7 linked regions of the Homo sapiens genome follow. The protein of the gene in region 4 purifies or fractionates together with the protein of the main gene of each other region. This does not show direct contact. Each region holds a gene or a part of one and is shown on either strand. Other genes may lie near its edges.

Region 1 (3,500 bases), on a different chromosome or scaffold from region 4:
CCAAGCTGCTGCCTCTGCGGGCTCTGCCTCTGCTCTTCAACCTGATCAAGGTAACATCCCGATCAAGGTAACCCCCCAACCTGCTCCTTCCCTCCCCAGCACCCCAAGCCGCCCACGCCCCCACATGGTTCCCTGTTCACCCCTTGCTCCTCTCCCAGCAGGAAACTGCTGCTTCCTGCAAAGGTATGAATCTTCTCCCTGGATCTGGTTTCAGCTCTGAGCATTTTGGCTTTTAGTGGGATTGCAGAGAGAGAAGCCACAAGGCTGGGGAAGGCTTGGTGGCTGGGGAAGGGAACCTGGGGACGTGGGGACTTTAATAATAATGCTACATGGATTCCTAAAAATGGTTTCCTTTTTGTGTCTTTCCTCCTAGGAGGCAGGCCTATCCTCTGCTTTGCAGGTCCAGAAACTCGATTGTGTCTGCTCCTCCAGAGGTGATTAGGCTCTGAGAGTGATGACTCATCCTAACTAAATCACCAGAGACGGGTTTATAAAGCAGATGCCATTTTATTCATTTATACTAGGAAGATAAATGGCATTGGTAATTGGCTTAGGGGAGTCATCATGAGGGCAGGTCCACTCCAGAAACCAAATTACAGACCTGAGGACTGTGCTGTGAGTGGCACAGCTGAGCGAGGTCTTTGAGGGCTGGAAGGAGCCACTCTGTGTGATGTGTGCCAGGCGCGTTATCAGTGTTCATCCTTTTGTTTTTCACATTACTCCTGGAAAGGAAATACTATTATGATCCCTTTTATAGATGAATAAACTGAGGCTCAGAGAGGTAAAGTAACTTGTCCAAGATCACTCAAATAGTAAGTTTAAAAGCCCAGGGCTTTGTGATTCTGAATCCTGTGCTCTTTCTGCCAAACTATACTGGTGCATTACGGATATGTCTGTCGAGCTGTGGGACCTTGCTAGGTAACCTTTGTTTTCTCTAGGAATGTTTCAGCAACGCATTTTGAGGAGGCAGAGTGCTGGTTAGTGCTGGCAGAATTTCAACACTTTTTAAAAATTTAAATGTATTTTTATTTTTATTTTTTGAGACAGAGTCTTACTCTGTTGCCCAGGCCTAGAGTGCAGTGGTGCAATCATAGCTCACTGCAGCTTCGACCTTCTGGGCTCAAGCAATCCTCCCACCTCAACTTCACTGAGTAGCTGGGACCTCAGGCATGTGCCACCATCCCCAGCTAATTTTTAAAATTTTAATTTTGTAGCCGGGTGCAGTGGCTCACGCCTGTAATCCCAGCACTTTGAGAGGCGAGGCAGGTAGATCACCTGAGGTCAGGAGTTTGAGACCAACCTGGCCAACATGGTTAACCAAGTGTGGTGCCGGGTGCCTGTAATCCCAGCTACTTGGGAGGCTGAGACGGGAGAATTGCTTGAGCCTGGGAGGCAGAGGTTGCAGTGAGCCAAGATTGCGCCACTGCACTCCAGCCTGAGCAACAGAGACTCCCTCTCAAAAATAAAAAAATAATAATAACAAAATTAAATTAAATTAAAAAATAAAAAATTTTTAATTTTGTAGAGATGGGGTCTCACTAGTGATCCTCTCACTTTGGCCTCCCAAAGTGCTGGGCTACAGGTGTGAACCACTGTGCCCAGCCAACTTTTTATTTTTATAGGCACCAAAGCATAAGGGCTAAGAACAGGGATTTGGTAACTCAGCTATTTGAGTTCAAATCCAGGCTCTGCTACTTATTAGCTGTGAGACTTTGGACAGGTTACTTAGTTCTGTGCCTCAGATTCCTTATCTGTGAAATGGAGATAATACTAGAACTTATATCACTGGCCTAATATGAAGATGAAATGAACTCATCCTCAGGGTCTAGGACATGGTAAGTGCTATTTAATTGTTTTTTGTTTGTTTGTTTTTTTGAGATGGAGTCTCGCTCTGTCGCCCAGGCTGGAGTGCAGTGGCACCGTCTCTGCTCACTGCAACCTCCACCTCCCGGATTTAAGTGATTCTCCCAGCTCAGCCTCCCAAGTAGCTGGGACTACAGGCACCTGCCACCATGCCCGGCTTATTTTTGTATTTTTAGTAGAGACAGGGTTTCTCCATGTTGGCCAGACTGGTCTTGAACTCCTGACCTCAGGTGATCCACCCACCTCAGCCTCCCACAGTGCTGGGATTACAGGAGTGAGCCACCACGCCCGGCCTATGCTGTTTAATTGTTTGTCACACATAGAAACAGACTTAGTTCCAGACCAGCCTGGCCAACATGGTGAAACCCCATCTCTACTAAAAATACAAAAATTAGCCGGGTGTGGTGGCACGTGTCTGTAATCCCAGCTACTCGGGAGGCTGAGGCAGGAGAATCTCTTGAGCCCAGGAAGTGGAGGTTGCAGTGAGCTGAGATCGCGCCACTGTACTCCAGCCTGGGTGACAGAGCGAGACTCTGTCTCACAAAAAAAAAAAAAGAAAAAAGAAAGAAACAAAGAAACAGGCTCGGGCAGCCCACCCCTTCTCACACATCACCTCCGACAGGAGGTCACAGCTGCTGCTGAGGCCACCCCGCCTTGAGGATGTGCCTGCCGGACCTGAGTTGCAACGAGAGGCTGCAGTCTCCCGAGGGGATTCAGAAAGCCCCCAGTTATTGAAAACCCAGCAGAATTGTCAGCCCTGCACCCCCAAGCCCTCTTGGAGGGAGGGTTGCCCTGGCAGAGCACTGAGCCCATCTGTTTATTCACCATCCTGTGGATTCAGCTTCACAGGGTGACATATTCTGTCACAGGTTGGTGTTGGAGAAGGGGCACTATCACCTCTATGAGAGTAACCTCACATATAAACATGAAAACAAGCCAGGTGCAGTGGGGCACACTTGTAGTCACAGCTGTCAGGAGGCCAAGGCAGGAGGATCGCTTGAGCCTAAGAGTTAAAGGCTACAGTGAGCTATGATCACACCACTGCACTCCAGCCTAGGTGACACAGCAAGACTCTGTCTCTAAACAAATAAAAATTAAAACATTAAAAAGTAAAAAAAACCCAGATGTTAAAGGACGTGCCACAAAACAACGTCATGGTTTGTTGCCAGAGGAATGACCCTTCTTCCCTTTCAGAACCATTGCAGGAATGGGGGAAGATATCACAAACCCCCAACATTTATTTCTTTGTCAGATATTTGAGTGCCTGCTGTGTGCCAGGCAATGTGTTAGAATCTGAGGAAATGTCAGTTAACAAAACTACAGGTTTCAGCCCTTTCTGATCTAGTCTGAGCTCCTCTCCCAGAAGGAAACTGCTACTTCCTGCACAGTTTGAGCACAAAAATATCAATGTAACCATATAAGGAAAAATTACAGCAAATGCCTGGGAAGAAGGAGCCCCAGATGCCATGAAAGTGTATAGTGGGGGAACTGGTCTGCGGGGTCAGGAGAGCCTCTTTGTGGAAGGGCATGTCGTCTGACCCTTGTAGCATTAGCCAAAGGAAGAAGTTGGGGGAGGGGAAATGCCCCAGGAAAGGGCAGCACCCTGGAGGCTTTTTTTTTTTTTTTTTCTCTTGAGA
Region 2 (4,143 bases), on a different chromosome or scaffold from region 4:
TTCTCACAGCAAACCCGTGGGGTGGGAACTGTTACTCCCATTTTGTAGATGGGGAAACTGAGGCTTAGGGAAGGTAAGTGGTATATAGCCAGGTCTCATAGCCAGGGAGTGGAAAGCTGGGGTTCAAATCCAGGGCTGTAGAATACCAAAGTCCACACTCTCCATTGCTCCCTCATTGTGATATGACTTTAAAAGAGGGTGGAGGAGGGAGAAATAAGGGTTTGGTGGGGAGGAGGCTGTAGGAAGGAATGGAGAGAAAGAGAAGACCCCCACTTTGAATCACCCGAATTGCATTCTTTTTTCCTTTGTTCTTTGTAGCTGTGACTTGAAGCTCCACCAATATCCCTATGTCCCCACGAGCCCCAGGAAAGCTGGCCCCAGCCTGCAGACCTCATTGATTTTGTTGTCCAGCTTCATCACTTCCCCTGGTTTCATTAGTTTCTTTTGAAAGGCACTCCGGACCCGCTGCCAGTCTTCCCCTTCCCTGTGAGAGAAGCAGGAATACATTTAGAGCACACTGAAAAGAAAAGAAGGAGATGCAGAAATACTCCAGCTGCAACTTCAGGAACCATAAAATCAAACAAACACTGAGAATCATGCCAAGAAATAGCCAGAGAATATTAGCATCAGAATATTTGGGATAAAATAGTGATCATCTTTTGACAATAGTTTGACAATAGGATGAAAAAGCACCTTTCCTCCTAGTCAAAGATTGCACCAAAAAGTTGAAGTCCAGATAATTTGGGTTCAGGGATTTTGAGGTGTCCTTGCAGGGAGTGGGGCTGGGAGGCCTGGGGACAATTCCTAGCGGTAAAAGGGGGCATGTGAACACCCCATCACCAGCAACTCAGATCTGTTTGAGGGAAGAATCTTGTCTTCTTTCAACTCATTGGTGTGGGCTTCATATTTACAAAATATCTCAGATTTAGAATTTTGCCATCGCCTCCAAATAATAACATACAGTCAGAGAGTCACTGGAGTAATAAAAAGCCTTTTGCGATCGTGCACTTGTAGGCACCTGCCCCATAGCAGACCATACAGCCTGTGAAGCACCGTGAATTAATAGGGTTTTTAATTCCAGTCATTATATCCTGGAAAATATAACGATTAGGCATTACAGTTTGGGGGTAAATAAAGGTGCTAACTTGTTAAATGCTAACAACTAAAAAGCAGAAGAATCACATCCCATAGTAGCATTTGTCGACCTAAAACACAACTTTGATATCCCTCCTTATTCCACCTTTACAAGTAGAAATAAGGCATGTCCCCCAATCCTCTGCAGAAAATGTCACTGTAAAAAGCCAAAGAGGCTAACTCCTCGCTTTTGAGCTTACAAGGTGTTTCAGGGAGTTTTAAGGGATAATTTTGTTTGTATAAGATGTTTGCCTGGTACGCTGACTTCAGAACCTCATCCTGCCCAAGAGTCTGAACACCACAGTTGGTACAACCCTGTTTTGGCGTTTCTTTGATGGGAGGGTGTGGCCCTGCCCTGTTGCCAGAGAGAACGCAGGTGCTGGGTGCACAGCACGGCTTTTCCGTGGACCGACTCTAATCTGTACAAGAGCTCAGGGTTGCGATGGCACGGGAGAGGGGCTTTGGTATCCGCCCTACGTAAGAAGCTTCCAACCCCAGGGAACTCTAACTCCGCCTCTTCACAATTTCCAGGCGCCGTCAGGCTCATCAGGTCTGGCCGCATGCCCAGGTCCCTCGGATTGGACTCACAGGATCAGCAGCCCGTAGCCTTCTTTGCGGTAGTCGCGATAGGCCTTCCACGGTTTGATCTCCAGCCGCTGCGGGTACGCGCTCTCGGTGCGGTACAGCGCTTCCAGCAGGCATGGCGAGCCCAGGTGCACCGACTCAAAGGAACCCAACTTCATGCGGAAAATCTTGCCATACTTCTTGTGGTACTCCACCTGCAGCCGGCCGGGCACAGCGCGGTGTCAGCGCGCATCCTCCGCCGTGCCCGAAGCGCTTTCCCTCCTCCCGCCTCCTTCCTCCTAGGGGACCGGGGACCCTCCCTGCCCAGACGCCGAAGCGCACCATGCGCCCGAGGCGCGCATGTCGGGGAGGGTTTGGAGCGCCACTGGGAGGGCGGAAGAGGGAGGAGAGAGTCAGGGGCGCGAAAAGGGGTTTACCAGGGTGTCGTGCTGTTTCTTGAGACCCCCTTTCCAGAGAATCTGCAGCAGGCTGCCCAGCAGTGGCCAGCTGGTGGGGCCCGGCAGGGCGGCCGCGTTCTGAGTCTCGCCACCAGCTGTCAGCGGGCAGACTGGCACCTCTCGCGGCTGAGGGGACGTGTACGCCGTAGATGTCACCAGTCTCGGGGGCTGCCTCGGACTGCGCAGCTGCTGCAGGAAGGCGGCAAGCGAGCGGCTCTTGCTGATGGGGGAGCTCATGGCAGCGGGGGACACCGGAGCGCGGGAAGGCAGGAGGATGGGGTGGGGCGAGGTTGGTACGAGGTGCTAGTGGGAGTCGGGGCTTAACGATTCTGGGAAAAGGAAGCAAAGAGGGCCAGCTGGTGTGATGGAGCGGGGTGAGGCGGGACAGGCAGCAGAAAGGACCTCGGCGAGGATGCTCGACGCTGCACCACGCGACAGCCTCAGAGCATTGGTGCCTCCTTGCACTGGCCGCAGGGGCTGGAAGAGGGTGGCCGGTGTCTGGGGACCTCTTGAAAAGGGAAAGCTGGGAGTCCTCCTGTTGGTCCGCAAGGCTGACCTCTAGGGTCTGGCTGGAGCCACGGGGAGGTGTCAAGGAGGGTAGATGAGATGCTGCTGGCGCTGCGTTTCCTCCTGTCCCTCTCCATGTTCCTATGCCCAGGGACCATGCATTTATGGAGACAGAGCATGCCCTGGGTGGCCAATGAGCACGCAGAGGAGGGCGGAGTGGCCCCCGGCTGGCCAGACTCCGAGGGACGCGGGACCCAGGGGAGGGGGGGTGGAAGGAGGATGGAGTCAGCGAGGTGAGCGAGGGCGTCCGGGCCTGGGGTGACCGGGGCTATGTTCGCTGGGCGCGGGAGGTGGGGTGGGGGCGGCAGACTCCACCCCGGAGATAACCCCCAGGAAGTCATGCGAAGCCCGGAGTTCACCGGGTGTGCTTCGAACGCGCCTCCCCGCCCTCCCCCGGCGGGCAGGAGCCGGCAGCGGCGGCCGTGGTTGCCGCCCGGCGCTTGCACAATCGCGATGCCGGGCGGGCGAGGTCCCCGAGTGCGGGCCCAGAAAAGCTGCCGGCGTCTGCCAGGGCCCCGGGGAGCCCGGGCGCCTCCCGGGGAGCCAGATACCCCCAGCCTGGACTGAAGTGATTTTTTTTTTTTTTTTGCCTTTTTTTTTTTGGAGGAAGTTTGGCTTTCTGCGCCTCCCAGGGTGGGGAGGATTTGAGTCTTACTGAAATGCACCAGAAGAGGAGACTTTCTTAACTTGAGCAAGAAGGGGAGTTTGTAGAATTTCCTTCCTGCTGTTTCATGTTTGGTTGTTTTGCAGATTAAATGAATTAATGCACGTAAAGCGGCAACAACGAAGCCTTGTCTATAGTCAACAGTCAATAAAAGTTAGTTGCTGTTGTTACTTCTTTAGGAAGTTAGGAAATGCGCCTTGAGAGCGTGGCTTGCACCAACGATGCTTGAATTCAGGCTGGGCCACCTCCCCTATGTCCACTGCCCGCCTCTGTTCTTCTACACCGACTACCTTGTGCAAAGGAGGGGCACACAGAGCTTGAAACCACCGCCCCCAGTACTCCCCCTCTCCCCCAAGGTGCGTCCTAGGCAGGTCCAGTGACAAACATACACAATTTCTAGAGTTACCGCGGCTGGCAAGAGTAGAACTCGCTTTGCTAATTCAGGAACGGAAGTTGGAGATTTTTGTTGATTGTTTTAAAGTGGCTCGAATCCTTTCAACCTGATCCAATACAAAACTACCACCAGCCAGGGAGGAGGGGAGGGACATTCTGTTTCCTCGCCCTGCTTTTCAATTACGTGTCTCAGTCATTTTTGCCCCAAGTGTTGGCAAATCCTTCCCTGGTAAATTCTTTTGTAAGCCTCTAGTTTGTTTCTTAAAAATCTTTTGCAGTCCAACTTAAGCTTTAACACCATCATTTCTGATTTGTCTGGAGGGGCTAATGACTGTTTATGTTAATAAAAATAATAGCTATTGA
Region 3 (2,390 bases), on a different chromosome or scaffold from region 4:
TAGAAAAGAGTTTTACTTTAACTTTGTGAAATTGCACCTGTCATTTCTGATTCTGAAATTAATGAAATTATCAATAGCTTGGAATCAGGCGATAATCCAACTGAATGTTAACTGTTGGTATTTTCTAAGATAATCCAACTGAATGTTAACTGTTGGTGTTTCTGGAATGTTAACTGTTGGTATTTTCTAATGTTAACTGTTGGTATTATCTTGGTTCTAAGGCCGAACCAAGGATGCCAGGCATCAGTTTCAAAGTGAAAACCGCAATCAAATTAAATTAGCTGTTTAGGTTTTTAGATGGTTCAAATGGTAGGTCAGTGATTCTTAGCCCTGGCTGAATATTGCAGACAGTCCTCAACTTACAATGGTTCAATTAAGGATTTTTCAGCTTGACAATGGTGCAAAACCATACACGTTGAATATGCTCCTCAGCTTACATTGGATTTATCTGGACCTGACCCCATCGTAAGTCAAGGAGCATGTGTACAGTCACCTGGGGAGATTTGAAAAAATTCTTCCCCAGACCCATTGAATTGCAATCTCCAGGAGTAGAGCCCAAGGATCAATACTTTTGAAAGGCTGGGCGCAGTGGCTCATGCCTGTAATCCCAGCACTTTGGGAGGCAGAGGCAGGCGGATCATTTGAGGTCAGGAGTTCACGACCAGCTTGGCCAACATGGTGAGACCCCATCTCTATTAAAAATACAAAAATTAGCCAGGCATGGTGGTGCATGCCTGTAATCCCAGCTACTCAGGAGGCTGAGGCAGGAGAATTGCTTGAACCTGGGAGGCAGAGGTTGCAGTGAGCCGAGATCTTGCCACTGCACTCCAGCCTGGGTGACAGAGCGAGACTCCGTCTCAATTTAAAAAAACAAACAACAAGGCCAGGCGCAGTGGCTCACGCTTGTAATCCCAGCACTTTGGGAGGCCGAGGTGGGTGGATCATGAGGTCAGGAGTTCAAGACCAGCCTGGCCAACATAGTGAAACCCCGTCTTTACTAAAAATACAAAAATTAGCCAGGTGTGGTGGCACACACCTGTAGTCCCAGTTACTTGGGAGGCTGAGGTGGGAGAACCGCTTGAACCCGGGAGGCAGAGGTTACAGTGAGCTGAGACCATGCCGTTGCACTCCAGCCTGGGTGACAGAGTGAGACTCCGTCTCAACAGCAACAACAACAAAAAACAAAAAAAAAAAAACAAAAGCAAGCAAACAAAAAACTGTTGAAAGCTTCCTAGGTGCAATTCTCATGTGAAGCTCAAGTTGAGAACTGCGAGCTACACCAGAGCTTCCCAGTCATATCGTTGAAAGGTTACTGCTGTGTCCCAGTGTTCATTCCTCTCAACTTGTTACTGTTCTCCCTGTGTGCTGTGATGTTAAAAATAAAAACAACAACAACAACAAAGCGTTGGAAAGCACCGAGAGATGACAAAACATCAAAGTTGGCTACAGTTTTCATTTTTGGTCTCCCTTTCTTGACTTGGTGTATACTCAGTCCTCATTAGTATTGCAGCTATCATTTGTCCTGTCATGTGTCTCTGCAGCATACCATAAAGTCTCCAAAGGATGGCACAGTAAAGAAAGTGTTCTACAGAGAAGGTGCTCAGGCCAACAGACACACTCCTTTAGTCGAGTTTGAGGAGGAAGAATCAGACAAAAGGGAATCGGAATAAACTCCAGCAAGGAAATGGCCAGTTAAGTAGTGTCTTCTCTCTCCACCAAAAAGAGGAAGTGCCTCCAGCTTTTCTGGGGGTCTCATAAAGAGCAGTTTTACTAAATGATTGTATGCTTATGCTGAACACCTTTCATATTGGAGAATCATGCATTTGGGTCACTAATTATCTCAAAATATTTCATACTAATAAAGTTGAATTATTTTTTATTGGAAGCCAATGTTTGTTTCTGCCTCAAATTTTTTACAAGGTAGTCTCTTTTAGGAAGGGGGGAAGAGAAAAGGACATTTAATTAAATGAATTACTTTCCAGTTGCTGTTATGATGAAAATGAGCAGTAATATGTTTCAGAGACAGGTGCCCTGGAGTTCAACAACTAAGGTTTTGTCTGGCCAAAAAGCAACTTGCTAGGTAGTTTAAAAGACATGGATATTAGTCGGGCGCGGTGGCTCACGCCTGTAATCCCAGCACTTTGGGAGGCCAAGGCGGGCAGATCACTTGAGTTCAGGAGTTCGAGACCAGTCTGGCCAATATAGTGAAACCCGTCTCCACAAAAAATAAGCTGGGTGTAGTGGTGAACATCTGTAGTCCCAGCAACTTGGGAGGCTGAGGCAGGAGAATCGCTTGAACCTGGGAGGCAGAGGTTGCAGTAAGTCGAGACCGCACCACTGCACTCTAGCCTGGGTGACAGAGCGAGACTCTATCTCAAAACAAATACATA
Region 4 (3,500 bases):
ATCAGAGAGGAGCACTCCCATTGGCAGCCAGGCTGACCTGAGCATAATCCTGGTCCCTACCTTAATGTTCAAGGTCCCTCATTCAGTCAGTGCTGGATTTGTCAGCAGCTTTTCTGTGCTTCATTTGCTTCTATAATGCGGTGGTAGTTATTAGAGCTACCATTCAGAGTACATGAAATAACCAATATGGTGCATTTAGCACATAGCAGGTGGTCAGTTAATAATAAACTAGTGGCCATGTATTGGGTACTTAGTGTATCGCTAGATACTGTGCTATGTAAGCCTTCACCTTCATTCATTCATGCAGCGAAGATTTAATGAACATCTATTTCACGACAAGCATTGTGTTTGGTGTTCAGAACACCATAATGGATCAAACATCACCTTATTTAATCCCTGAACAGGACATTGTGATGGGCCCTTTAACCCAGTTTTACAGATGAGGAAACTGAGACTTGGAAAACTAAAGTGACTTGCCCAAGGTGCTAAAAAGTAGTCAAGTCAGGAGTGGGCAGAGCCGAGAGCAGATGTGCCTTGGAGCAAGGGCCTGGTGGAAACCCATCTCAGAATTTGAGACTTTGTCCTGATTGGAAGCCAGAACCCAAAAGGAGCCTCTCAGGGGCCTGAACCATTGAGTTATGAATGCTCACCCCACAGACCAGCTGCATCAGATTCACCTGGCTGCTGTTTTGAATACAGATGACAAGGCCTCACATCTGACCTACTTAACCAGACACAGCTGAGCAAGAGCCCTGGGGATCTTTTTTAAAAAAATCAGCCCATAGGGCCAGGCGCCATGGCTCACGCCTGTAATCCCAGCACTTTTGGAGGCTGAGGCAGGCAGATCACCCGAGGTCGGGAGTTTGAGACCAGCCTGACCAGCATGGAGAAACCCCGTCTCTACTAAAAATACAAAATTAGCTGGGCGTGGTGGCGCACGCCTATATTCCCAGCTATTTGGGAGGCTGAGGCAGGAGAATCACTTGAACCCGGGAGGCAGAGGTTGCAGTGAGCCAAGATCCCGCCATTGCACTCCAGCCTGGGCAACAAAAGCGAAACACCATCTCAAAAACAAAACAAAAAAAAATCGGCTCATATGATTTTGAGAGCTGTCAGGTGGGCCTAGATCAGTGGTTCTCAATTTTGGCTGTTACTAGAATTACTGAGAAGCATTTAAGAAAACATTAAAGATTCTGATTTTATTTTGTTCAGGGTGGATACAGACAAGTTTCTTCCAAAAATTTACCAGGGGACTTCACAGTGCAGCCAGGGATGAGAGCCCGTGGATTAGCTGATCATCCAGATCACAGAACTTTGGGAATTACCTAGATCTCAAAACCCCATATTGGGGGAAACCTTTAGAAAAGAGTTCTAAATTATTAGAAATTGGGATGGGGGTGGAAGCTGTGCCTAAATGTGCAGAATTATAGACATGGACATGTGTGTGTTCTACCAGAAAGTCCTCATACCTTGGTAAGAAAGCATGGACTCTTTTGCGTGAATTATTTATCTATTTTGAGCCTCAGTTTCCTGGTCTGCAAAAGGGTTATAATGATAGTACCTACCCCATGAGGTGGTTGCAGATTACCCAAGCCAGAGCTTTCAGCACAGCACCTCACATGTGGTATTTATGAAACGGTAGTCATATTGTTGTTACACATATTATTGGTGCTACTAACTGTTTTTACCGTGGTAGTGCCACCTAGTGTATTTACGTTTTACAGGGAGGCTTCTACAGAGCACAACTGCATGAGGACAAAGAGTCGAGACCCGCTGGCCATCTACTTTACCAGCGGAACCACCGGGGCCCCCAAGATGGTCGAGCACTCCCAGAGCAGCTACGGACTGGGTTTTGTGGCCAGCGGAAGGTACCAGAGCAGCTTGTCTAGAGGATCCAAGAACAGAAAGTGGGGAGTGGTCTGGAGGGGGTGGTGTGAGGGGAAAGGTGTCAGGAACGGAGGTCAGAGAGCCAACAGAATTACTGAGAAGCCAATAGGAGCAGCTTAGGAAGGATCTTGATGGTTCTGGATTTTACTCTGAGTGAGGTGAAAAGCCATGGGAGGTTTCTTTTTAAATCGTGGCTATATATATATATATATATATATATATATATATATATATATACACACACACATATATATACATACATACACATATAAACATATATATACATATATCATAAATGTACCCTTTTAACCATTTTAAGTGTACAGTTTAATGTCATTAAATACATTCACATTGTTGTGCAACCACAATCACCATCCATTTCCAGAATTTACTTTATCTTTCCAAATGAGAACTGTGCCCCCATTACCCAATAACACCCCATTACCCTCTCCCCTCACCCCTGGTAACCTCTATTTTACTTTTCATCTCTGTGAATTTGATACTCTAGGTATTTCGTGTAACTGGCATCATGCAGTCTGTCCTTTTGTTTTGCAATTTGGCTTCTTTCACTTAGCATAATGTCCTCAAGGTTCATCCGTGTCATAGCATGTGTCAAAATTTCCTTCCCTTTTAAGACTGAAAAATATTCCATTGTATGGATAGACCACATTTTATTTATTTTTATTTTTTATTTTATTTTTATTTTTTTGAGACAGAGTTTTGCTCTTTTGCCCAGGCTGGTGTGCAGTGGTGCGATCTCCACTCACTGCAACCTCTGCCTTCCAGTTTCAAGCAATTCTCCTGCCTCAGCCTCCCAGATAGCTGGGGTTACAGGTGCCCGCCACCACACCCAGCTAATTTTTGTATTTTTAGTAGAGACCGGGTTTCACCATGTTGGCCAGGCTGGTCTCGAACTCCTGACCTCATGATCCTCACGCCTTGGCCTCTCAAAGTGCTGGGATTACAGGCATGAGCCACTGCACCTGGCCTCGACCACATTTTAAATAATCCATTCACCTGTTGATAGACACTTGGGTAGCTTCCACATTTTGGCTATTGTCAATAATGTTGCTATAAACACTGGCATGTGAGTATCTGTTAGAGTCTCTGCTTTTACTTCTTTTGGATATACATGCAGAAATGAAATTGCTGGATCATATGGTAATTCTATGTTTAATTTTTTTTGAGAAGCATTGGGTATTTTGAGCAGAGGAGTGACATAATCTAATATGTTTTTTAAAGGCTCACTCAGGATGTTGGGTTGACAATGTAACTGTAGGGGAAACAGGTAAAGAAGATGACCAGTGCATTAAGAGGCAAGCATGGTAGCTTGCCCGGGGAGCAGTAGTGGGAGAAGAGATGAGATTCTGAATGTATTTTCAACCTAGACCCAATAAGGCTTGCTGACAGAATCAGTGTGGAATGAGAAGGAGGAGTCAAGGAGAGCTCTAAGAGGAATGGCCTGAACAACTGGAAGCACTAAATGATGGGGGAAGAACTGTGGGATGAGCTGTCTGGTGGCAAGAAAACAGTTTGTTTATGGAGTTGTCAATTTGAGAGTCTTCTTAGAAATCTCCATCTCCTTGTTAAAAGTGGAGATGTTGAGTGGGCAT
Region 5 (3,500 bases), on a different chromosome or scaffold from region 4:
GGATAACACTCTTGATAACATTTTAATAAATGGGTGTTTTTCTTTTCAAGAAATTTTGACTTGCACTTCAGATTTCCTTTTTAATATTTTCGTTGAGCGGAACCTTGCTATTCCATAAGAGGATGTGTCCAGTGTTGTGGAAGATTTCATGTTTTAAATCCTTTGTACAGAAATCCTGCTCCCAAGTCACAGATAGGCTGACGGGTCAGAGGGCAAGACGTGACCCAGGGCCGAGAGGGTGAGTGACCAGGAAAATCGGATTCATCAGTTCACTTGTTTGTTTCAGAAACGTGCACAAAGACCTGCTGCATGAGGCCCTCGTCTTCAGTTTCTGTTTCATGCCCAGCATTAAACCAAGTATCTCATTTTGCCAATTTGACTTCTGTAGGGGCCATGGCACCTGCAAGGTGTTTCTCAGCAAGATTGAGGACCGTGTTTCAGGGCGTGGGGCATTGGGCTTTGTCCACATGGGCTGGCCTGAAGCCCAGCCGGCTACTGCCACAGCGGGCTTCTCCCAGGCTGCTCTCGGTCGGCCGTGCGGACCTCGCCAAGCATCAGGAACTCCCGGGGAAGAAGCTGCTCTCTGAGAAAAAGCTGGTGAGACTCCTGGAGTTAGAGCAGCTTGCCTGTCTCCTCCTCAGAAGGCACAGGGTGTGGTTTCGGGTCCTCCTCTGGGTCTCATCTCTGTTGATGTTAGTTGATGATCTTAGTGATGGGGCACGTGGAGCTTCTTGAAAATGACAGGGTGAAACGCAGGCCTGCGTGCTAAATCCCACGCTCAGCAAATCCCAGCAGGCTGGGAGAGGCGCTGCGTGCTTGGAAAGCCGTGATACAGGCTGCTCATTTTCCCATGAGCCTGTGTATTTTACATGTATGTTACATATATCCTTTCATATGTGTGGCTATTTCTTAATTTAAAACAAATGCGGAGGCTGGGCACGGTGGCTCATGCCTGTTATCCCAACACTTTGGGAGGCTAAGGCAGGCGGATCACTTGAGGTCAGGAGTTCGAGACCAGCCTGGCCAACATGGTGAAACCCTGTCTCTACTAAAAAAAAAAAAAAAACCTTTTTAAATTAATAAATAAATAAAAATAAAACAAGTAGGGGGGAATATACCTTCCGTTTTATGGTTCTTTAAGCCTTATAAGTTTTTCTTGTTCTATTTACCAAAACCTCCTATTTAAAGCATGAATTGTCTCTAATAAATTCAAGAAAATGCACGTTTATGACTCCCTTCGTTTCCTGCTGAATGGAGGGGCTCCAGATAAGCATTACTGGGACAAACAGCACTTCCAGTGGAAAAGCCGCTTTGGTGGGATGTGTGCTCAAATAGCTGAAGCGTTAGCACAGGCTTGTCTCCTCCCCAGGAGAGAAAGTGAGTCGAGGTTTTGTCCTCCACGAAGTGCTCACCAGTGGGGCTTTCCTCCCTGTCTGGTGGATTTTGCTTGCGTTGGCGCATGACAGCATTACACATTGAAATTTGGAAATAACAGTTCGTGGTTTTCCCACATGGTGGTGCCAAAGAATCTTAGAATGTTTGTGTTTTAAATTTTTAAATTTTTTTTTGTGTTTAAATTTTTGTGTTTAAAAATTTTAAATGTTTTAAAATTTTCTTTTAAAAGAAAAAAAAACTGCATTTGAGGAGTATTGGATCGGAGTGCAGAGGCAGCAGCCCTGGGTGGCTGTCAGGGGCAGGGCACGTCTGTCTGTGCACGTGGGCAGAAGCCAGGTGTCCTCCCCAGCGTGTGGTGAGGTTGCAGCACCCTGGGCTGCGGGAGCTGACCCTCCTGTGGTAGGAGCTGTTGTGTGTTGAACAGTAACCTGGTTGGTTCTCTCTCTTCATCCAGATTGCACCTACCTTAGTGACCTACAGAACAGCTTTCCTAGCCGGGCACAGTGGCTCACGCCTGTAGTCCCAGCACTTTGGGAGGCCGAGGCGGGTGGATCACGAGGTCAGGAGATCGAGACCATCCTGGCCAACACGGTGAAACCCCGTCTCTACTAAAAATACAAAAAACTAGCCGGGCGCAGTGGCGGGTGCCTGTAGTCCCAGCTACTTAGGAGGCTGAGGCAGGAGAATGGCATGAACCTGGGAGGCAGAGCTTGCAGTGAGCCGAGATCCCACCGTTGCACTCCAGCCTGGGCGACAGAGCGAGACTCTGCCTCAAAAAAAACCACAAAAAACAAAACAGCTTTCCCTCCAGCGAGGGGCTCTGTTTGCCTCACCACATTTTTTAAATGAGCCCTGTTTTCATCAGGCCCCAGAAAATACTCTTTCTTCAGAGTCGAAAGCCTGGTAATTGTCCAGGAACGATTCTAACTTCCTATTTCTCTATCGCATCCTGGGAAACTAGAACTTTCTAAGAGTAAAGATCTATGATTTCAGGAATGGTTTTTTTGAATGGAAAGACACATTATATAAGGAATATTTCCTAAACAAGATGTGGGTTTTTTAGCTTAGAAATGCTGATTTTTGTTGTTGGTTTTTAAATCAGTCTCACCCAGAGTAAGAAATGCTGAATTTTTGAAGTGTAGGTCCACACAGAATACTTACATCTGCATTGTGGATTTACCTCAGTCTACAAATGCAACTGACTTGTGGAGACTGTTTTTTATCTTCGGAATTTAGAAGTGATTAGCAATATTAGTGTCATTAACCTCTAATTTTAATAGGCTGTTATAGATAGAAGATGTACATCTCAAATGGATGCATGGTGTCTTGAAAGGACCTTGGAGTGTTGAGATGACGTGGGATATTTGTGTTCTCTGTAGAAAAGGTACTTTGTGGACTATCGGAGAGTGCTTGTCTGTGGAGGAAACGGAGGCGCTGGGGCAAGCTGCTTCCACAGTGAGCCCCGCAAGGAGTTTGGAGGCCCTGATGGAGGGGACGGAGGCAACGGTGGACACGTCATTCTGAGAGGCAGGTGCCCTGGGGCAGTGCAGCGGGGTTGAGGAGGGGCCCCGAGACTGCATGTGCATTTGAACTAAAAACCTGATGTATGGGCAGGCACAGTGGCTTATGCCTGTGATCCCAGCACTTGGAGAGGCTGAGGCAGGAGGATCACTTGAGCCCATAAGTTCAAGACCAGCCTGGACAATATAGCAAGACCATGTCTTTTTTGTTTGTTTGTTTTTTTGTTTTTTTTTTTTTGCCTCAAGGTTTGTGGATCTACAAAAAATTTTTGAAAAAATTAGCCAGACATGGTAGCGTGCACCTGTGGTCCCAGCTACTCAGGAGGATTGCTGGATCCCAGAAGTTCAAGGCTGCAGTGAATCGTGATCACACCACTGCATATTCCAGCATGGGTGACAGAGCAATACCCTATCTCTAAAAAAAAAAAAAGTAAAATTTTTAAAACCCAGCTAGGCGCAGTGGCTCATGCCTGTAATCCCAGAACTTTGGGAGACCGAGGCGGGTGGATCGCTTGAGGTCCGGAGTTCGAGACCAGCCTGGCCAACGTGGTGAAATCCTGTCTCTTAAAAAATAATAATAATAAC
Region 6 (3,500 bases), on a different chromosome or scaffold from region 4:
TGGTGGCACGCACCTGTAATCCCAGCTACTCGGGAGGCTGAGGCAGGAGAATCGCTTGAACCCAGGAGGTGGAGGTTGCAGTGAGCTCTGATCATGCCACCGCATTCCAGCCTGGTGACAGAGGGAGACTCCATATCAAAAAATATATATATTTAATATATATATCAAATCATATCCATATCAAAATATATAAATATATATACATGCATATATATGTATGTATACCTAAAACAGTGTAAGTACTGTGTAAATAAATAGTTGTTAACCTGTATTTTTTGTTTGCATTTTTTATTGTTGTGTTGTTATTTTTGTTGGTTTTTGTTTGTTTTTGAGATGGAGTCTCACTCTATAACCCCGGCTGGAATGTGGAGTGCAGTGGTGCAATCTTGGTTCACTGCAACCTCCACTTCCCTGGTTCAAGTGATTCTCATGTCCCAGCCTCCCGAGTATCTGGGATTACAGGTGTGCGCCACCACGCCTGGCTAATTTTTTTTCTGTGTTTTTAGTAGAGACGGGGCTTCACAATGTTGACCAGGTTGGTCTCGAACTCTCGACCTCAGGTGATCCGCCTACATTAGCATCCCAAAGTTCTGGGATTACAGGCGTCAGTTACTGTGCCCTTACTGTGTGTGTTTGTTTTGTTTTGTTTTACTTCAAATATTTTCTTCTTTTTTTTTTTTTGAGATGGAGTCTCACTCTGTTGCCCAGGCTGGAGTCCAGTGGCACCATCTCGGCTCACTGCAAGCTCCGCCTCCCCAGTTCACACCATTCTCCTGCCTCAGCCTCTTGAGTAGCTGGGACTACAGGTGCCCACCACCACGCCCGGCTAATTTTTTGTATTTTTAGTAGAGATGGGGTTTCACCGTGTTAGCCAGGATGGTCTCAATCTCCTGACTTTGTGATCCGCCCGCCTCGGCCTCCCAGAGTGCTGGGATTACAGGCGTGAGCCACTGCACCCGGCCTTACTTCGAATATTTTCTATTGTAGTTGGCTGAATCTGCAGATGTGGAACTCACAAATACAGAGGGCTGACTATAGATGAGAAACACATTATATTCAAGATTTACCACTTAAGAGTCCTTTCTCTAGGTGCTTATAGAGGTTGAGTATCCCTTGTCCCAAATGTTTGGAACCAGAAGTAGTTCAGATTTTGGATTTTGATATATCTGCGTATATATAATGAGATATCTTGGGGTTGGGACCCAAGGCTAAACATGAAATTCACTTATATATATATGTTTCATATATATCTTATACACCTAGCCTGATGGTAATTTTATACAATATTTTAAATAATTTTGTGCATGAAACAAAGTTTGTGTTAAGTACTTACGTGTGGAATTTTTCATTGTGGCATCGTGTGGGGGCTCAAAAAGTTTTGGATTTTGGATCATTTCAGGTATCGGATATTTGGATTAGGGATGCTCAACCTCTACAGTTTTTTAGTCCTAGCTGGGCGCCGTGACTCACACCTGTAATTCCAGCACTTTGGGAGGCTGAGGTAGGTGAATCACCTGAGGTCAGGAGTTTGATACCAACCTGACCAACATGGCGAAACCCCATCTCTACTAAAAATACAAAAATTAGCCAGGTATGGTGGTGCGTACCTGTAGTACCTGCTACTCGGGAGGCTGAGGCAGGAGAATCACTTGAACCTGGGAGGCAGAGGTAGCAGTGAGCCAAATTCGTGCCACTACACTCCAGCCTGGGCAACAGAGTGAGACTCTCAAAAAAAAAAAAAAAAAAAGAGTTTCTGATTTTGGAGCATTTCAGATGTCAGATATTTGGATTGGGGATGCTCAAAGTATATAGTTTTGGAGTCCTTTTGGCCCCACTGAATGACTCCTGTAAACTCAGATGCTGTCTTACCAACCTGTTTTGCACTCTCCTGATTTTTAGTAAGCTTTTTAACTGTAGAAATCACATAAAAAGCTTAAAGATTTTCATGAAGAAAATAGAATTTGCCTTCATTATTTTGGTTTTTTTCCCCATCTTTTTATTTCAAGCTTATAGAAAAGTCAAAAGAAGTTACAGTGATCTCCCGTTATACCTTTCATCTAGACTCACTATTAATGTCTGGCCATGTTTGGTTTTCTCTATACACGAGTGTATATAGGTATGCATCTGTATACGTGTACATGTATGTATGTGTGTTGTGTGTGTCTTTTTTTTTCCTGAACCTTTTGAAAGTAAGTTTGAGGAACAGTTACCAGGCTGCTGCAGTGATCTGTAAGTGGAAATGATGGTGTTTTGTGGTGTGAGGGTGTCATCGTAAGTGCTAGGAGGAGGCGAGTACAGGACATCTTAGGTGCATACAGGAGAGACTCCTAATGAGTCTTTTCTGGTATCCCCAAGAGGCTTCATGAAGACAGTGACTGGTAAACTGCAACCCAAAGGACTGTTTGGAATTAGCCAGGCAACAGGTGGAACAGAGCATTGCAGAGGAGAACATGCGTTTGAGGAAACTGCATGTAGATGTGTATGTCCAGATCATCCCAGGTTGAGATGAAAAAATGGGGAGCTGCTGCAGAAAGGAATGAGATTTTTTTTTTTTTTTTTTTGAGATGGACTCTGGCTTTCTCACCCAGGCTGGAGTGCAGTGGCACAATCTTGGCTCACTGCAACCTCTGCCTCCCAAGTTCAAGCAATTCTCCTACCTCAGCCTCCCAAGTAGCTGGATTACAGGCACCCAACACCATGCCCAGGTTATTTTTGTGTTTTTGAGTAGAGATGGGGTTTCGCCATGTTGGCCAGGCTGGTTTCCCAACTCCTGACCTCAGGTGTTCTGCCCATCTCAGCCTCCCTAAGTGTTGAGATTACAGGCGTGTGCCACTGCGCCTGACGGGAGTAGATCTTTTAAGCCAGGCTTAGGAATTGAGATTTTATTTTAAGGGCAATGGGGAGCCATTGAAGGTGTTGTTTGTTTGTTTTTTGAGATGGAGTTTTGCTCTTGTTGCCCAGGCTGGAGTGCAATGGCACGATCTTGGCTCACTGCAACCTCTGCCTCCCGGGTTCAAGCGATTCTCCTGCCTCAGCCTCCTGAGTAGCTGGGATTACAGGCATGCGCCACCATGCCCGGCTAATTTTGTATTTTTAGTAGAGGTGGGGTTTCTCCATGTTGGTCAGGCTGGTCTCGAACTCGCAACCTCAGGTGATCCACCCGCCTTGGCCTCCCATAGTGGTGGGATTACAGGAGTGAGCCACCACACCTGGCCCAGATTTACAATTTTTAAAGAATACTCTGACTGGAGGGTGAAGAAAGAATTGGAGAGAGGTCTGAGAAGAGGCAAGGGGGCCAGTTAGGATCCATGGGCAAGATGGTGGCAGTGAGAATGCAAAGAGGTAGATGAGATTTTCAGGAGAAAGACTTGACAGCACAGAACTAGATAGGGCGAGGTGAGGTAGAGATTGCAGAAAGTCAGAGGCGAGTCCCAGCTTTCTAGCTTGGGCAGCCGAGTGGGCGATGGAGCCCTTGACTAAGTAGCCAGGGAGGGAGGAGA
Region 7 (2,712 bases), on a different chromosome or scaffold from region 4:
GATTCACCAGTTGCTTGACACTGGTATGTCACTTATTAATTGTACCTGCACTTACTCATTCTACCTTCATTGCCAAGCCAGTCCTCTGTGTTCTGAGTCTATTTGCCTAAACATTCAGGAAAAAACAGTACAGATAATTACATGTATTTTGGAAACCACACTTGGTTTGTTGGTTGCCTGTAATTGACTATTTAAAGTGCATTTTCTAAGCCTACTTTAGATAGTGGTCTTAAGAAATGGTCATCATTCTTAAAAGAACTATAAGTGTAACCTGTCTGAAGACTGCTTCAAACTCTGTCTTAAACAATTTTGCTTTTAGTTAATTATTTAATTAAACCAATTAAAGATCCATGGAAAGAGGGAAAAGCTCAACAGGAGAGTGGTTATACTAAGGAAATGCCCATACCCTCCATTTAACAATGCCATGTAGAAGTGTTGTTGTTACTAGGTCAGAGATTTCCATGTGCTCAAATATTTGCCAAACAGGTGAAAAGCCAGAATAATTAAAACAAATTATTTATTCCAAGTTCTACCAGTTTAAAGTTTTTCAGAATTACAGAAGCGAACAATGAAATCAGAAACAAGCTCTCACAGCTGTAGCATTTATAACAAAGTCATTATCTACATGACCTTGATTTAAGAGGTGTAGAGTGTTTCTTTTATTCAGAATCCATGAGGAAAGTTTCGAAGTCCAGATCCAAGTCGGAAACGAGGGCACTTACGAAGTCATCAACAGAAGGACACTTCTGAAGCATACCTGCAAACAAAGGAAAGGTCAGAACTGCGTTCACCAGGAGGCAACAGGAAGCACAAAGACACAAAATCAAATCCACACACTAGAGGAACACTCTGGCTTTCTGAATTAAGACTCTGGCTGTATAACCTGAATGCAAGAACATTTTATAAAGTCATGGGCAGTGTGTGGGCCTTGGAGCTATTTATAATTTTAATGTATTTTTACTATCAAATCCATCCTTAGCTTAGAGATTTAGGCCTAAATATATTTCCTAAGGGCTATTATTTTTGCATATATGACTATACCCTTAGAGACTGATATTAGAAGACTGATTTTTTTTTAGTTATCTTTGACTGGGATGATTCACAATTTAACAAGTTTAATTACATATCAAGTTTTGTTATCAAGTTCTATACACTTTACAATCAATTAGATGTTAATTCTTTTATAGAAATCTTATATCAGAATCAAGTTATTGGCTCTCCTCCAGATTTCCCTGTCCCAGAGAACTCCTAGCTTTGCAACTTAGTAACTGTGTAACGCAGAAGTCACTTAAAATCTCTGGCATCCAAATTTCCTACAAGGTTGCTATAAGGATCAAACAAGAAGATGTAGTAGAAGCAATGAAGCACCATGCCTAGCATATATTAAGAATTCAATAAAAAGCTGAATTCATGTCCTTTCTTCACTCTAAAGAAGCCAAAAACAAAGATTGATGCAATTAACCTTATTGCTTTAACCTACATTCTTGGCAGGAAATGCTAACTGAAGGGTTGAACAGGCTCTATATACTGATATTTACTTTGGGAGATGAATTCTGTAAAACCATTTTCAAAATCAAGGCATTAAAAGATTGCAGGAATCCTCTATTGTTCTCTGAACCTGTATTGCAATTCAGTGAACATGAAGGAAGCATCTGTTGTGTGTAAAGGATCAGGCCAGGTCATGGGCATACAGGTGGGCAGGCTCAGTCACAACATGAAGAGTGAGAGTAGTCGGCTGGGCAGAACTGCATATCCATACGGCAGAAAACTAGCCTTGACTCCTACTGCATACCATACATAAAAACTAATTTGAGATGGTCACAGACCTAAGTGTAAACACTAAAATTATTATCTTAAAAAAACCGCATGAAGTATCTTTGTGACCCTGAAGTAGGTATAGTTTCTTAGGACACAGAAAGCAATGCATAAAAGGAAAAAATGTTAGATTTCATCAAAATTTAAAATGTCTCTTGAAAAGAAACCATTAAGCCAATGAGTAGACAAATGATAGTTGGAAAAAATACTCACAAAACATATCTCACGTAAGACTGGTATCCAGAAAATATAAAGAACTCCTTTGACCCATTGTAAAAATATGTTTTTTTAAATTACAAATTGACAAAAGATTTTACCTTCACAAGGTCAGGTTTTTCACAGAAGATATCTGAATAAGTAACACAACTAATAGGCACTGAGAAGACATTCAACATCATTAGTCACTAGGGAAATGAAAACCAAACCCACAATGAGATACTATTACACATCCACCAGAATAGCTAATTTTTTTTTTTTTTTTTTTTTTTTTTAAAGACAAGGTCTTGCTCTGTTGTCCAGGCCTGGACAACACAGCATGTGCAGTGGTGTGAACATGGCTCACTGCAGCCTCGACTTCCCAGGCTGAAGTGATCCTCCCGTCTCAGCTTGAGAGTAGCTGGAACCACAGGTGTGTGCCACCATGCCCAGCTAGTTTTTAAACTTCTTGTAGAGATGGGGTCTTGTCATGTTGCCCAGGCTGGTCTTGAACTTCTGGGCTCAAGCGATCCTCCTGCCTTGGCCTCTCAAAGTGCTGGGATTACAGGCGTGAGCCACTGTGCTACACCAAATGTTGACAAGGCTGTGTGCAACCTGAATTGTCATACATTTGTGGTGAAAGGATAAAATGATACAATCACTTTGAAAAAAGGTCTTAACCAGTGTCTTACGAAACTAAAC

Evidence for each region.
Region 1: the proteins of ACSM5 (region 4) and NLRX1 purify together in Homo sapiens (affinity purification with mass spectrometry; one large-scale study listed by BioGRID and IntAct). This does not show direct contact.
Region 2: the proteins of ACSM5 (region 4) and CYP24A1 purify together in Homo sapiens (affinity purification with mass spectrometry; one large-scale study listed by BioGRID and IntAct). This does not show direct contact.
Region 3: the proteins of ACSM5 (region 4) and MCCC1 purify together in Homo sapiens (affinity purification with mass spectrometry; 2 studies listed by BioGRID and IntAct, with this or other methods). This does not show direct contact.
Region 5: the proteins of ACSM5 (region 4) and MTG2 purify together in Homo sapiens (affinity purification with mass spectrometry; one large-scale study listed by BioGRID and IntAct). This does not show direct contact.
Region 6: the proteins of ACSM5 (region 4) and ACAD10 purify together in Homo sapiens (affinity purification with mass spectrometry; one large-scale study listed by BioGRID and IntAct). This does not show direct contact.
Region 7: the proteins of ACSM5 (region 4) and MIPEP purify together in Homo sapiens (affinity purification with mass spectrometry; one large-scale study listed by BioGRID and IntAct). This does not show direct contact.

What each region holds. Positions count from the first base shown.
Region 1 is NC_000011.10:119,175,225-119,178,724, forward strand, and holds part of NLRX1 (NLR family member X1 isoform 1 precursor), read left to right. Parts: coding exon 1-50; intron 51-3,500.
Region 2 is NC_000020.11:54,171,187-54,175,329, forward strand, and holds the start of CYP24A1 (1,25-dihydroxyvitamin D(3) 24-hydroxylase, mitochondrial isoform 1 precursor), read right to left. Parts: upstream 2,801-4,143; 5' UTR 2,394-2,800; coding exon 2,136-2,393; intron 1,914-2,135; coding exon 1,723-1,913; intron 485-1,722; coding exon 391-484; intron 1-390.
Region 3 is NC_000003.12:183,014,718-183,017,107, reverse strand, and holds the end of MCCC1 (methylcrotonoyl-CoA carboxylase subunit alpha, mitochondrial isoform 1 precursor), read left to right. Parts: intron 1-1,541; coding exon 1,542-1,670; 3' UTR 1,671-1,890; downstream 1,891-2,390.
Region 4 is NC_000016.10:20,419,534-20,423,033, forward strand, and holds part of ACSM5 (acyl-coenzyme A synthetase ACSM5, mitochondrial), read left to right. Parts: exon of another isoform or gene 1-249; intron 250-1,724; coding exon 1,725-1,868; intron 1,869-3,500. UniProt on the Homo sapiens protein: Catalyzes the activation of fatty acids by CoA to produce an acyl-CoA, the first step in fatty acid metabolism.
Region 5 is NC_000020.11:62,193,028-62,196,527, forward strand, and holds part of MTG2 (mitochondrial ribosome-associated GTPase 2), read left to right. Parts: exon of another isoform or gene 1-309; coding exon of another isoform or gene 310-393; coding exon 394-597; coding exon of another isoform or gene 598-651; intron 652-1,849; exon of another isoform or gene 1,850-1,986; intron 1,987-2,774; coding exon 2,775-2,922; exon of another isoform or gene 2,923-2,926; intron 2,927-3,500. UniProt on the Homo sapiens protein: Plays a role in the regulation of the mitochondrial ribosome assembly and of translational activity. Displays GTPase activity. Involved in the ribosome maturation process.
Region 6 is NC_000012.12:111,689,053-111,692,552, forward strand, and holds part of ACAD10 (acyl-CoA dehydrogenase family member 10), read left to right. Parts: intron 1-3,500.
Region 7 is NC_000013.11:23,729,689-23,732,400, forward strand, and holds the end of MIPEP (mitochondrial intermediate peptidase), read right to left. Parts: intron 758-2,712; coding exon 660-757; 3' UTR 501-659; downstream 1-500. UniProt on the Homo sapiens protein: Cleaves proteins, imported into the mitochondrion, to their mature size.